Regions from separate parts of the Homo sapiens genome. Here regions 1 and 3 are each linked to region 2. The links come from fine-mapping of genetic effects on gene expression. A gene starts in region 2. Each other region holds a variant in brackets. All regions are shown on one strand. Distances are between the middles of the regions.

Region 1 (4,192 bases), 33 kb after region 2:
GGGTGGGAGCTGCGTGTTGGAGGGAAGTTGAGTATGACTTAGGTCCAGGCACTCGACACCCCCTCTATGGAGTCAGCCCTCGGGGAGTCAGAAAAACAGAGGTAGCCAATCCCACTGCAGGGAGCTGGCAGAGTCAGGTGGCATGCAGGAGGAAGCAGGAGAAAGAGCACAGCAAGAGGGGCCTGGAAATGGGAGCAAAGTCATCAAAGGCACGGCACCCTCTTCAGTGGACGGGCATGGCCTCAGAGGTGGTGGCAAGGAAGGAGGACAGGAGTCTGGCTAGCTGTGTAGAAGCCTTTTGGGGCACCGGGACAGGGAGCCACCTTCTGCCCCCTCACCTCCAGCTTCCCCCGATTCATTGTGCAACTGCTGATAAAATAATGGCTGTCATTGATGGCATGCTTATTGCGTGCCAGGCATTATGTTAACAGCTGTTTTATTCAATCCTCTCAGCAACCCTGTGAGGTTGAGAGAGATAATAGAATCCATCACATCACATGGCTGGGAAGGAATCTCAGTCTGTGCAACTCAAAGTCCATTCTTAATCCCCAACCCTCCTGCACACCCTCACCTGAAGCTCCCCAAGCCAAGACTAGAGGTGCTATCCAGGAGGGTCCCACAAGCAACTGAAGATCTGAGACCCCTGTGTTCTTAATCTTGTGCTCCAGAAGGAATGAGAGCTGAGTGTGGAGGAGGCATACACCGTGCCAAGGCCCCTGGAGCTCAGATCTAAGATTCAAGATGTGTAGGGCCCAGGCACTCTTTGGTCACTGAGGCTGGGTCACCCCTCCTGCCACTCCCTGCGTCTTCCCCATCCACGGCCCCACTCCTACCCCAACTGTGAGCAGTCAGTGATGCTCTTTTAGAAACCACACTACACAGAATGTGGCTGTTTTCTGGATGGCTTCAACCTGCTATCCAACAACAATCAAACCCACATCACGCTCTGGCAAGGCCACGTGGTCCTCCAGGCCCTGAAACTGGCACAGTCAGCGGCCAGCACTGCCATTAGACATGGGAGAAGCTGAGTACAGCATAAGGCCTGAACCTACCACAGGGAAGTCATCTCACCCAGGAAAAGGACTTCTGACCCCCAAAGCAGAGAATGTGCCCAACCTATCTGTGGTTAGGAGACAACTCATTCATTGAATAAGAACTCATTCATTGAACTCATTCATGTGAAAGTCACGGCCACTCATCTGTGCACCATGTCTCTGAAGAGGCCCCTGGATCTGGGCAGCAGCCAGCCTGTCCACCCCCTCCCCACGGGCTGCTCTCGGCCAGCTGTTCCGTCTCTCCTCCTGTGTACAGCCCTGCCTTTTCACCTCACTGGCCTTGCCCCTCTGGCCCTGGGATGCTGCTCTTGGCTCTGCAGCTGTTTGGCTGGATGCCTCTGAATAGAACATTCAGCCTCTATGTTCTTCTATTTCTTCAACTGGAAAACAGAGAGAAATATGGTCATCATTTTTTTTCAAGGGGTAAAGGAGTCATTGGAAGGAATAGCCTGGTAAAGATTCAAAACCCATCGGCTATTTGGAAGAAAAGTTGCTGCATAAATAAGCTGCTTGACCCAAGGCCCATTTTGTACGCTTCTTTGAGGTCAATCTTGTTTATTTTCCTGGCTCACAATCCCCAAAGGTTGGGGTGGGCCAAAAGGCAAACCTGCCCTTTGCAGGGGCCTCTCCTGTCAAATTAATCTGATGACTTGATGGAGCAGTGGGTGGAAGAGAACATGGCCCCGTAAGGTTAGCGGTGGAATCCCTGCTGGAGAGAAATGACGCTGGCCCAGGGGGGATGTGCCTTGTGCCCAGCCTGGACAGGCCAGTTCACTTCTCGGGGCATAGGCTCTCCCTTCCTCCTCATGAGAATAAGAACACCAACTCTACTCCCTGACAGTCTCCTAACTTGGTCTCCTGAGAACTCAGTGAGGCTGGCAGGGAAGGGATGATTATATCTGTGT[T/C]ACAGAGAAGAAAACAGACCTATTCAAAGTCACAGAAATAAGTGGGGACAAGACCTTAGTCTTCTGCCTACGTGACTCATTTTCATACAATACATACCTTAACCCTAACATAGAGCCGTGATACAAGTCAAATGAAAGAATGTACAGAAGGCCTTCCGAAAGGGGGTGAAGCTCTGTGCAGTGCTGTCCAGCAAAAATAAATGCAAGTCACATAATGTGATTTTTGTCACTTATGTGCAACCACATTTAAAGTGTAAAAAGAAACAAATGGCAGGGCGTACCTCCTGCCAAGCTACTCCTAAGCTAGGGCAGCTAGGAGGATCCACAAGGCCTACTCGAAGGAGCTGGAGAACTGCTCAGGGACAAAGAACAAGAACAATGGAAGCAACTCGAACACTTTCACTGCCCAGGGGTCTTCCACCTTTATTTATGTCTTTTCACCAGAACCTTAATTGGATGCAAACCCTCAATGTAGGAAACAAATGAACCCAGAGCTCTCCAGTGGAAGGGCTCAGACCAGCCAACAGGCCTCTCCAAGCTGTCCCCCGAAGCTCCCACTAGAAATTTTAAGTGTTTTTCTTATAGACATCAAATAGTAGGGCTTTCAAAAAATTATTTATTTATTTATTTATTTTTATTTTTTTGACAGAGTCTTGCTCTGACACCCAGGCTGTAGTGCAGCGGCACAATCTCGGCTCACTGCAACCTCCGCCTCCTGGGTAAAAGCAATTCTCCTGCCTCAGCCTCCCCAGTAGCTGGGATTACATGCGTGCACCACCACACCTGGCTAATTTTTGTATTTTTAGTAGAGACAGGGTTTCACCATGTTGGCCAGGCTGGTCTCGAACTCCTGACCTCGTGATCCACCCACCTTGGCCTCCCAAAGTGTTGGGATTATAGGCTTGAGCCACCGTGCTCAGCTTTTCATCCTGACAATTTCTGCTTTTTAATTGGAGTGTTTAGGCTATTTGCATCTGATGTAATTATTGATATGCAGTAGTTACGCATAAAGCTATTAGCTTGCTGTTTGCTTTACACTTGTCCCATTTCTTCTTTGTTTCTATTTTTCCTTTCTTCCTGTTCTCTTGTTGATTAAATTTTAGCTTACATTTTATTTTCACAACGGACTTATTACCTAGATGTCTTTGCTATGATTTTAATAGTTGCTGTACAGTTAATAATTCATATGTTTAACTTGTAACAGTCTGACTTTAAATAATAATAATACCACTTCATGGATAAAATCTTTCAAACAATATACTTCCACTTTGCCCCCACATCTTTGTAATATTCTCATACATTTTACTTCTACAGATGCTATGCATCGGATTTGGATTTTGTCAAAGTCTGACCCCTTCAGCTAGAGAGCTCTAGTTTGATCTCTTTCCAACACATGGTATGGACACCATGAAACATTGTTATTATTTTTGCTTTAAACAGTTGATTATCTTACTAAACATCTTAAAATCCGAAAAAAAGGCTTTTATATTTACCCACATATTTATCGTTTTTTCAGTCTACCTTCCTTTGTGGATACCCAACCTTCTGTGTAGTATTATTTTCATTTTGCCTAAAGAACTTCCTTTAATTTTTTTTTTTTTTTTGTAATTCAGGTCAGCTGGTGACAAGTTTTCTCAGCTTTTGTGTATCTAAAGTTTCTATTTTACCTTCAATTTTTGTTGTTGTTTTTGTTTTAGAGAGGGAGTCTCTCTATGTTGCCTGGCTGGAGTCCAGTAGCTATTCACAGGAGCGATCATAGCACACTACAGCCTCTAGCTCCTGACCTCAAGTGACCTCCCATCTTAGCCTCCCAAGTAGCTGGGGCTACAGGTATGCACCACCGTGCCTAGCTTGCTTTCAGTTTTGAATGATATTTTTTGTTGGACATTAAATTCTAGGTGGGCATTTCTATTTTCCTTTTCAGCACTTTAAAAATGTTCCAGGCCAGGCACCGTAGCTCATGCCTGTAACCCCAGCACTTTGGGAGGCTGAGGTGGGAGATTGCTTGAGCCAAGGCGTTTGAGACCAGCCTGGGCAACATGGTGAAACCCCATCTCAAAAAAAAAAAAAAAGAAAGAAAAGAAAATTCGCCAGGCATGGTGGTTTGTACCTGTAGTCCCAGCTACTTAGGATGTTGAGGTGGGAGGATCACCTAAGTCCAGGGAGGTCAAAGCTACAGTGAGCCATGATCACACCACTGCACATCAGCCTGGGTGACAGAGTGAAATGTTT
Region 2 (4,192 bases):
GCAAGCTGCAGTGATTCCAAACTTCTCATTTCTGCTCTCAGATGGTTGTTATCGTGGATGAGACAGAGCATGCAGCACCCATGGTTTGGGGTCCGCACGTCCCTCTGCCACCTGTGGCCCTGTCCCGGGTTTTATCAGCATCAGACTCTGAATCCAAAATGGATGACTGCATCATAGTTTATACCCTGCTCCCTTACCCAAAGGCTGGGCTCCAGGTGGCATTTCCCACTCTTGTCCGGTGCTGGATGGCTGTCGGCATCTCTGTGGTCCCATGTCCTGCACACACAACCGTAGTTTCCACGAGCGCTCTGCAGACCTCCCGCCTGCCGGGCTGCCTGCGCTTCTCACCAAGCACACCTCACAGATAGGGGCCTCCTGAACCTTTTAAAGTGGTTCTCTCCCAGGGAAAGCAAAATCTGGAAACATGTCCAGGCTCAGGCCTGATAAAAGGATGAAGTATACACAGCCAGGACCATCTCGGGTCCTATGTGAGGGAGAAGAAAATCAGATGATTTATAAATGAGCAAAGTGCCAGGCTGAGAAGGGGCGCCTGATTTTCTTAGGGGATGATGACTCTGTTTCCATGGTAGGAGGAGGAACTGAGCAGGGGACAAAGGGAGCACTCAGAGAGGAGGGGCATGGCTGTGTCTTTCCTACCCTGACGTGGTGTGGGGAGAATCGCCCCTCATCCCCCTCCTCTAGCCCCAAACATCAGGATTCTGGCCAAGGCTGGCAGCCAGCACTGCCGTGCAGGCTCCAGGGACTCTGTGCTCTGTGTCTGACCTGCCTGCTCCTCTGCTGGAATTAGGAAGAAGCAGAAAGACCCTGGGTGGATTTCTGAACAATCCTGTGAACACCTCCTAGAAAGTGAACATGTAGACAAAAATGAAAGGGGGAAAGAAATCACTTCTAAGGGCACTAATTAGAAATCAAAGCACTGGCCAGGTGTGGTGGCTCACACCTGTAATGCTAGCACTTTGGGAGGCCTAGGTGGGTGGATCATGAGGTCAGGAGTTTGAGATCAGCCTGGCCAACATGATGAAACCCCGCCTCTACTAAAAATACAAAATTAACCAGTTGTGGTGGCAGGTGCCTGTAGTCCCAGCTACTCAGGAGGCTGCAGCAGAAGAATCACTTGAAATCAGAAGGCAGAAGTTGCACTGAGCCGAGATTGCACCACTGCACTCCAGCCTGGGCAACAAGAGTGAAACTCCATCTCAAAAAAAAAAATCTAAATATCAAATCCAGAAGGAAGTTCACTTTGTCTAAACTCCTCATTTGACAATGAGGAAACCAAAGCCCAGAGAACTGAACCCATATGCCACGGCTGGAGCAGTGCCAGGGCTCAGATCCAAGCCTCCTGGCTATAGCCTGTCATTCTTCCCCCATCGTGGATGTGTAGGAATGGGCCCTGGCAGAGTATCATTCTCCGTGGGCAGCAGCATCCCCTCCAAGAAACTTTCTAGGGCCACAGCTGGAAGTGACCTGAGACATAGAACGCGAGGGGAGGCTGGTGTAGGAATGAACTTGGGGCTCAGACACCACCCAGTGTTAAGTTCCCCCAAACAAAGCTTCCTGTAAAGTCAGCGAGACTCTATGGGTGATGTTAGCATCAAAATTAAGATCACAAACTCGCTAAACTCAGAAGCCATTAAACACAGAAAGCACGCCTGAGAGTCCCCCGCACACTCGCCCCTGCACCACAGATTCACACTCTCACGCTGCATTCACACCAAGGGCAGCAGTCCCACTGGGTCTGGGGACCCCAGCTTTGAGGAGTGAAACAGTGGCTTCCTCTTCTGAGCCCTCTCCTCAGCTGCCTGGGAGCTCCCTCAAAGGTGCAGACTCACCTCGGGGCTCGGATACAGCGAGTCCTGGGTCTCCTCCTTTGTCCCCACAGGCTTTCAGCTGAGCAGCCACCTCCTGCAGCTGATTGTGCTCAGGTATGCGGATGAGGAGCTCCAGCTGGACTTCGATGACTTCCTCAACTGCCTGGTCCGGCTGGAGAATGCGAGCCGTAAGTGTCCAGCGAGGCTGAGGGTGCACCTCGGGGTGGCATCTTCAGTCACCCTCCATGAGCGCATGAGAAACAGCCTGGTTAAAGTAATGGCAAAGATAGACCACAGAGAGCCATGGTCTGATGTGTGTGGACCCATGGGCCTGTGCGGTTAGCTAAGGAGCAGAATGTGCCAGCCTCCCCTGCAGCACGTTTCTTAGCATCGCCTTTCTTTATACATTCACAGTGCCTCTGTGGGAGGATGATGGGCTGGGGCAGGTTTGTGCCTTGTGTTTGAGGAAAGGTTCAATTGCAGGTCAAATCCCATCATAGCATATAGAAACAGGAGAGTCTCAGTCCCCCTTCCTCCCCCCTTCCCCGCCCTGTAAGCCCTAGACATTGACCCAGTTATCTCAAATAAGATTTGTTACACCACAAATAGAGAGGGATTATGTGCCCGTGCGCTTCAGTGTTTGCAGTTTATTGTCATAGCCATCCTGCCCCTCAAAGGTGGTTTTGAAGGTGAGGCTGAGTGAAGCATGTCCAGGGCCTGTAACTCAGTACTGGAGTGGCTATGAGGACATGCCCTGTGTGCAGGTGCCAAAGGACCCGTGCCCTCAAGGGTGCCTCGTGCTTGGTTTAATGTTCTGGCGTTTCCATCTTGAAAGTCTTCACAACTTAGGAGCAGGGGGCCCCGCATTTCCATTTTGTCCTGCTTGGTATTTTCTAATCTATGTTCCATAGGCCACTTCGAGGTATGAATACTTGATTAAAAAAAAAAAAAAGGCAGGGGGCTGGGCACAGTGGCTCACGCCTGTAATCCCAGCACTTTGGGAGGTTGAGGCAGTTGGATCGTGAGGTCAGGAGCTCGAGACCAGCTCATAGCGAAACTTTGTCTCTACTAAAAATACAAAAAATTAGTCAAATGTGGTGGTATGCACCTGTAATCCCAGCTACTCGGGAGGCTGAGGCAGGAGAACCCCTTGAACCTGGGAGGTGGAGGTTGCAGTGAGCTGAGGTTTGCCACTGCACTCCAGCCTGGGCAACAGTGGGAGACTCCATCTCAAAAATATAAATAAATAAATAAATAAATAAATAAATAAATAAATAAATAATAAAATTAAATTAAATTAAAATAAAAAGGTGAGGGCTGTGACCCTTGGTTATCAGCATGATAGCTCCCTCTGCTTCTTTGGTAATAGAACACTAATTACTTGCCTGAAGCACAGCCCCTCTAGACTCTAAGCTCCAGGAGAGCCGTAATTTCTGGACAATCAATGAGTATGTGTTGATTAAGGAATGATGAGAGAAAATCAGAGACAGACCAGCAGGCCCCAAAGGGTCTAGTATATCAAGCCAGGAAGCCGGCTTTCCCTAAGGGGTTACTGGTAGCTAGTGAGAGGTGCATTCTAGAAAGACCCCTCCTGAAACAGAATCCGTTATTAGACTTACAGGGTGGTCAGAGCTGACCCTAGAAATAATGAGATTTGCTAGTTTCTCTTCTCTCCATTGCTCTTTCCCTTTCTAAACCACCCAGGTGTAATCCTTCCCAGAACGGGGGGTGGGAGTGCCTCAGCTTTTCTTATAGTAGAGGAATATTAGGGTGAAGACCCTTTAGGCTTAACACCATCCACTCTGGCATCCTCACATTAGATTTGCCTGGAGAACTTTTAGAATTACCAAGGATGGAGCTTTGCTGCAGTATTATTTTAACTTTTTATTGTAAGAATGTCAACCCTCCAGTTAGATATAAAGAATCATAATAGGTTCCCATGCACTCCACATCAGCACTTCTCAAACTTCGCTGTACATTACAATCTCCAGGGGTGCCTAAAGAAATGCTGATGACCAGGCTGCACAGTTGACCAATTCTGTTAGAATCTCAGGGGTGGCACACAGCATTGGGAGTTACGCAAATTCGCCAGGTGTTTCCAGACCTTTACACCCAACCTCAACAATTACCATCTTGCTAACTTTTCCCTTGTGCTCCCGCAACACATACATTTTCCCCCTAAATAATTTAATAGCAGATCTCAGAAACTCTGTCCATTCATCTGAGTATCTCCAGCTGATAGACTTGTTTTTAGCATCATCTTCATACCATTTGCACACCTAACGAAATTCTCAGCAAACCCTCAACATTCTCTAGTGCCCGGTTCATGCCCAAGTCTTCCAGGCCACCTTTTTACAGTTGCT
Region 3 (4,192 bases), 44 kb before region 2:
CCCTGGTGAGCAGAGCCCCTGGCCAGAAGCAGCGGCTCTTTCTGTTTGATCCAGGGTTTCATACAGATGCTCATGTTCTCTACAGGCACTTGATATGAAAAGGTTGGAAGCACTTTTTCTCTTCCTTAAAATGGGGACAATAATGCAACTTATGGGGTCCTCATGAGGGTCAGCTGCGTTACCATGAGTAGAGCACTTAGCAAAGAGCCTGGTGTGTAAAGAATCAGTGCTGGTCCTTGTTATTTCTACTGCTGTCATTGTAACCTAACACCATCGTCTCCTGACTCTAGGAGGGCCCCCATCCTTGCAGTCTATATTGACATCATCTAGTTTAAAGTGTAATCTGTACTCTACAACTCACTTACTTTTTGTCAAAGTTAGAATTCTCCAAGATAAAAGCTGGACGCACAAACCAGCATGGAGGGCATCTTTGTCTCCCCCTTCAGAAGTCTCCCCTCCTGGGACCAGGGCCACCAAGGCCTGCCCAGCGACTCTAGAGTCCCAGATCTCTGCTCCAAGGGGCTGTCTTCCTTAGTATTATCTCCTCTGGCATTGCCCCAAACGCTGGGTGAGGCCTTCATCCACAGGCCAGGGCCCTTGATACACACAAGCCCCTGCCAAGATGCACCCCGACCTGCCACCCAGCCCATGCCCCTGTACCAGCCCTCTGTCCCTTCTTCATCCCACTGTCTCCACCTACGGCAGACCCTTTATTGATCTTAACCCAGGTCTACTGTGTTGCTGTCGTTCCCACAGACTCATTTTCAGAATCTGTTCTGCCTTTTCCTTTGTCTGCAACTGAAGATTGTCCCTTTGGTCTGGTCCTCATTCTCGTACCCCTATCTGTTTCTTATTTAGGGGAGTTAGAAGCTTTACATCATATCTTACAGATTTCTGTAAAATCAGGAACAAAAGGGCTGAGGATGAGCATGGAGACTCTTCTTGCAGCATAGAGTCGCAGGGAGCCGGGGGGTAGCGGGCCATAGGGAAATCACAAGCATTGCCAGGTTCCCTGCAGACCTCTGTGGCTTGGGCATCATTTGCAGTGGGACTCAGCATTACACGGTGCACATCTCAGCAGCCCGTGGGACCGTGGGGCTGGACGGCCCTCCTCCTCAGCACCACCTTCTTGTCAAACACAGCTGTACTTGGGGAGGGTGGGCAGAGCACAAAGCCAAGGGGACATTGGAGGGCAGTGGACAGCCAGGCTTGCCCTCAAGGGAGCCCAGGGCAAGGAGTGCACTGAGGGTGACTCAGGGAACTGGCTGGGAGGGGCTGGGAGGCAGAGAGGGTGATAGGCTCAACCTGGAGAGAAGGTGAGATCACCCCCAGGTCTCATGCAAGGGACTGTGGACCTGAGTGGAAGTGGGTGCACAGAAAGAGGAGGAGGGAGTATCGGGTGAGGTCTCCCAGCCTGATGGGGAACAGCCACCATGCAGTCCATCCCTCCTTGTCTGCCTGTACCCATTTATTTTTGGCCAGGCAATTCCCCCCCACCAATTCTCAGTGTAAATCCAGGACACCTCCCCGAAAGTGCCCACACCCCTCTAGCCCATGTGAACAACCCCTGTGGCAGACCTGTGCACAGCGTGGCATGTGACCACAGCCTCTCCTGCACGGTGAGCTTGCCGTTCCCTGTGCTGCTCCCCTGACCCCCAGGAGGGGTTGTCAGTTGTTCTGGGACAGCCCCAAAGGCCCCATGGCCTCCACAGTGCTGGGCACATGACAGGGATCGGCACATAGCTATGAACAGCAGCGTCTGGCATCTCCAGACCTTGCTGGAAATGTGGCTTTTCTTCACTGGAAGGCCATGTGAAAGACAGAATGAATGAAAAAGAAAGAGAGAAAGAAAGAGAAAAAGAGAGAAGGAGAGGAAGAGAGAGAGGGAAAGGGAAGGAAGGGAAGGGAGGAAGGGAGGAAGGAAGGAAAGAAGGAAGGAAGGAGAGAAAGAGAAAGAAAGATAGAAAAAAAGAAAGGAAGAAGAGAAAGAAAGAAAGAAGAAAGAAACAAAGAAAGAAAGAAAGAAAGAAAGAGAAAGAAAGAAAGAAAGAAAGAAAGAAAGAAAGAAAGAAAGAAAGAAAGAAAGAAAGAAAGAAAGAAAGAAAGAAGGGTGGCTTTTCCCTTTGTGAATTATTCACTGTGCTTAGTAGAGGAAAGTGTGTCTTCGGCTGAGCCCCGATGATGTACAAGGTAAACAGAACAGTCCCTGAAAGCA[A/G]ACATTCCAGGGTGCTTGGCCCTTAGTGCTCCAGGAAAACCACCTGGTGGTAGGGCTGTGGGGTGGGGGAGGGGAGGGGGAGGGGGAGGGGTCTGCGTGCCTCCCTCGGGGCTTCAGGCAGCAGTCTAGGTTCACTTCAGGTTTGTCAAGACCCCTGCAATTGAGACACCTCTGATCGTCCTATCACAGGACTGTAGCTTCAGGTAACCCCTTCCTCATGGCCTCCCAAGCAACATTTCACAGGAACAAATGTACATCCAGGATCGACACGCACATGCAGGACACTCACACGTAGACAATGCTCCCAAGTGCACATGCAACCAGCATACATGTGGAGCATGCACAAGCACACACGTGTACCACACCTGGGCACACACAACAAGGCAAGTCACAGGCACCTTGCACATGTGGGCATGTGGGCCGTCAGCATACACACCACTCCCAGGCATCTAACCCAGGCCCACCGCCTAGCTGCCCCTTCCACACATGCGTCCGCAGAACCCCCTGTGACTGGCACGTGTGCACACCAATTCCCAGAAACACTGACCCACAGAGGAGTCGGTCACACATCCAGACACCTCCCCAATTTATACCCGATGGCTAATTTGTGTTTACTTGGAGAGTTTCTGAGTTTTTTCCTTTTGTATTTTTCTCCTCATTGGGTGCGATCTGGTTTAAAACAAAAACAAAAACAGACCTCTCCTGAACAAAACAACCAATTGCAAGATAGGAGCTGGGAGGCGGTGGCAGCTGCAGGCACAGTTGGTACGGTTGGCGGGGCCAGGCCTGCAGAAGGCTGGGGGAGGGGAGGGGCAGGGAGGATGGGAAGGAGGCGGGCATCCGGGAACAGCCCTGCCCCAGGAGCTAGCACAGCCTGCTGGGCAGGGATCTGTGGCTTTTGGAGTACATTTTATGTCCACTTGAGGAGTGAGTAGCATTGGCAGTGGGGGCATTGCTTGCCAGGGCTATCCCCTGGCAGGGGCTGGGCAATCAAGACAGGGAGGGCTTGGGGGACTCCTGGGTTTCCCTTCGGGCAGGCACATTCTGCAGCAAGCCCAGAATGTCTAAGCTGGTGACAGATGAGGATGCAGCCGTGAGAAGTTAAATGGCCCACCCTGAACCCTACTGCTGAGCGGGGCAGGCTATTCCTGGGACTCTATTGAGGCCCACTGACATGGTCCTGGTTTGCATTGTCCTTCTGGGCTCAGCTCAGAGCCACCTGCAAACTCCTGCGCTAGCCAAGGTGGAGGAGGAAGAAGAGCAGTGTGCTTCCTACAGATGAGAGGGGTCCGCACAGGCAAGCCAAGCCAGGACCCCAGAACTGAGCAGCTGCCCCCCACCTTCACTCCCTTTCCAGCCACCACGGAGATCAGAGTCATTTAATGAAATGGCGCCAAAGCTACCTGGAGCTGGGGGTGGGAATGCAAAGACGTGTGAGACCTGGCAGAGGACAGGCCAGCATTTGGGAGGTCCTTACTTCTGCCGGGCCTGGGGTTTTGGCGCATCTAAAAACACCCCGTGTTCTTCAGAAATTCTCCTGGCCAAGCTTTCTTGAGTATTTTAGACACTAATGCCACACATAGCTCTCCCTGGGCAGGCGCCCCTGGTGTCTGTCACTCCTCCAGGTTGTCACATCCTGGGGAATGCAGAGAGAGCACCAGCATTTGAAGCTTCTGCTCTTGGTCCTGATAATCCCCTTGACTTCAAAGAAATCTCTGTCCTGCCTTTGATTCTTTGGGACACAAGATGAGAGGAGAAGCAGGGTGCTGAGAAGCCTGAGGAAGACAATTCAAAGCAGAGGTCTCTCGGGGAAGGCGGCGCAGCTTGAGCTCCCCACGTGGCGTCCGCCCAGACACTGCTGGAACCTTCCACCTCCAGCCCAGGCCCCTCCTCAGTCCTGGTGCCTGGAAAAGTGGGAAGAGGTGGGAAAAATCCTTCACTCCTCTGCAGGCCCCGGCCCAGTTAACTCACCACCCC

Direction of the effects. Positions count from the first base shown, and alleles are read on the strand shown. Sizes are in standard deviations (SD) of each study's normalised expression. Not every link is listed here.
As copies of C replace T in region 1, the expression in atrial appendage of the gene that starts at base 1,949 in region 2 goes up (moderate effect, 0.44 SD a copy in GTEx).

The links. PIP is the estimated chance that this variant, and not a neighbour inherited with it, causes the effect. A credible set is the group of variants that fine-mapping cannot tell apart.
Region 1: its variant is the best candidate, but not a certain one, in a credible set for the expression of CAPN9-AS1 in atrial appendage (GTEx, PIP 0.73).
Region 3: its variant is the best candidate, but not a certain one, in a credible set for the expression of CAPN9-AS1 in minor salivary gland (GTEx, PIP 0.66).

The regions. Positions count from the first base shown.
Region 1 is chr1:230,826,242-230,830,433 of GRCh38, forward strand. The region is part of intron 1 of LOC124904548 (a long non-coding RNA gene); the gene reads left to right. Among named protein-coding and RNA genes, the nearest start is that of CAPN9-AS1, 33 kb to the left of the region's middle. The variant T/C (reference allele first, on the strand shown) is at 1,961.
Region 2 is chr1:230,793,263-230,797,454 of GRCh38, forward strand. It overlaps CAPN9-AS1 (CAPN9 antisense RNA 1), which reads right to left and starts at 1,949. Exons shown (of 2, transcript XR_001738518.2): 1 at 1,851-1,949. CAPN9 (calpain 9) reads left to right here. Exons shown (of 20, transcript NM_006615.3): 18 at 1,901-2,017.
Region 3 is chr1:230,749,578-230,753,769 of GRCh38, forward strand. The region is part of intron 1 of CAPN9 (calpain 9); the gene reads left to right. Among named protein-coding and RNA genes, the nearest start is that of CAPN9, 4.3 kb to the left of the region's middle. RefSeq lists an enhancer at 1,116-4,192. The variant A/G (reference allele first, on the strand shown) is at 2,216.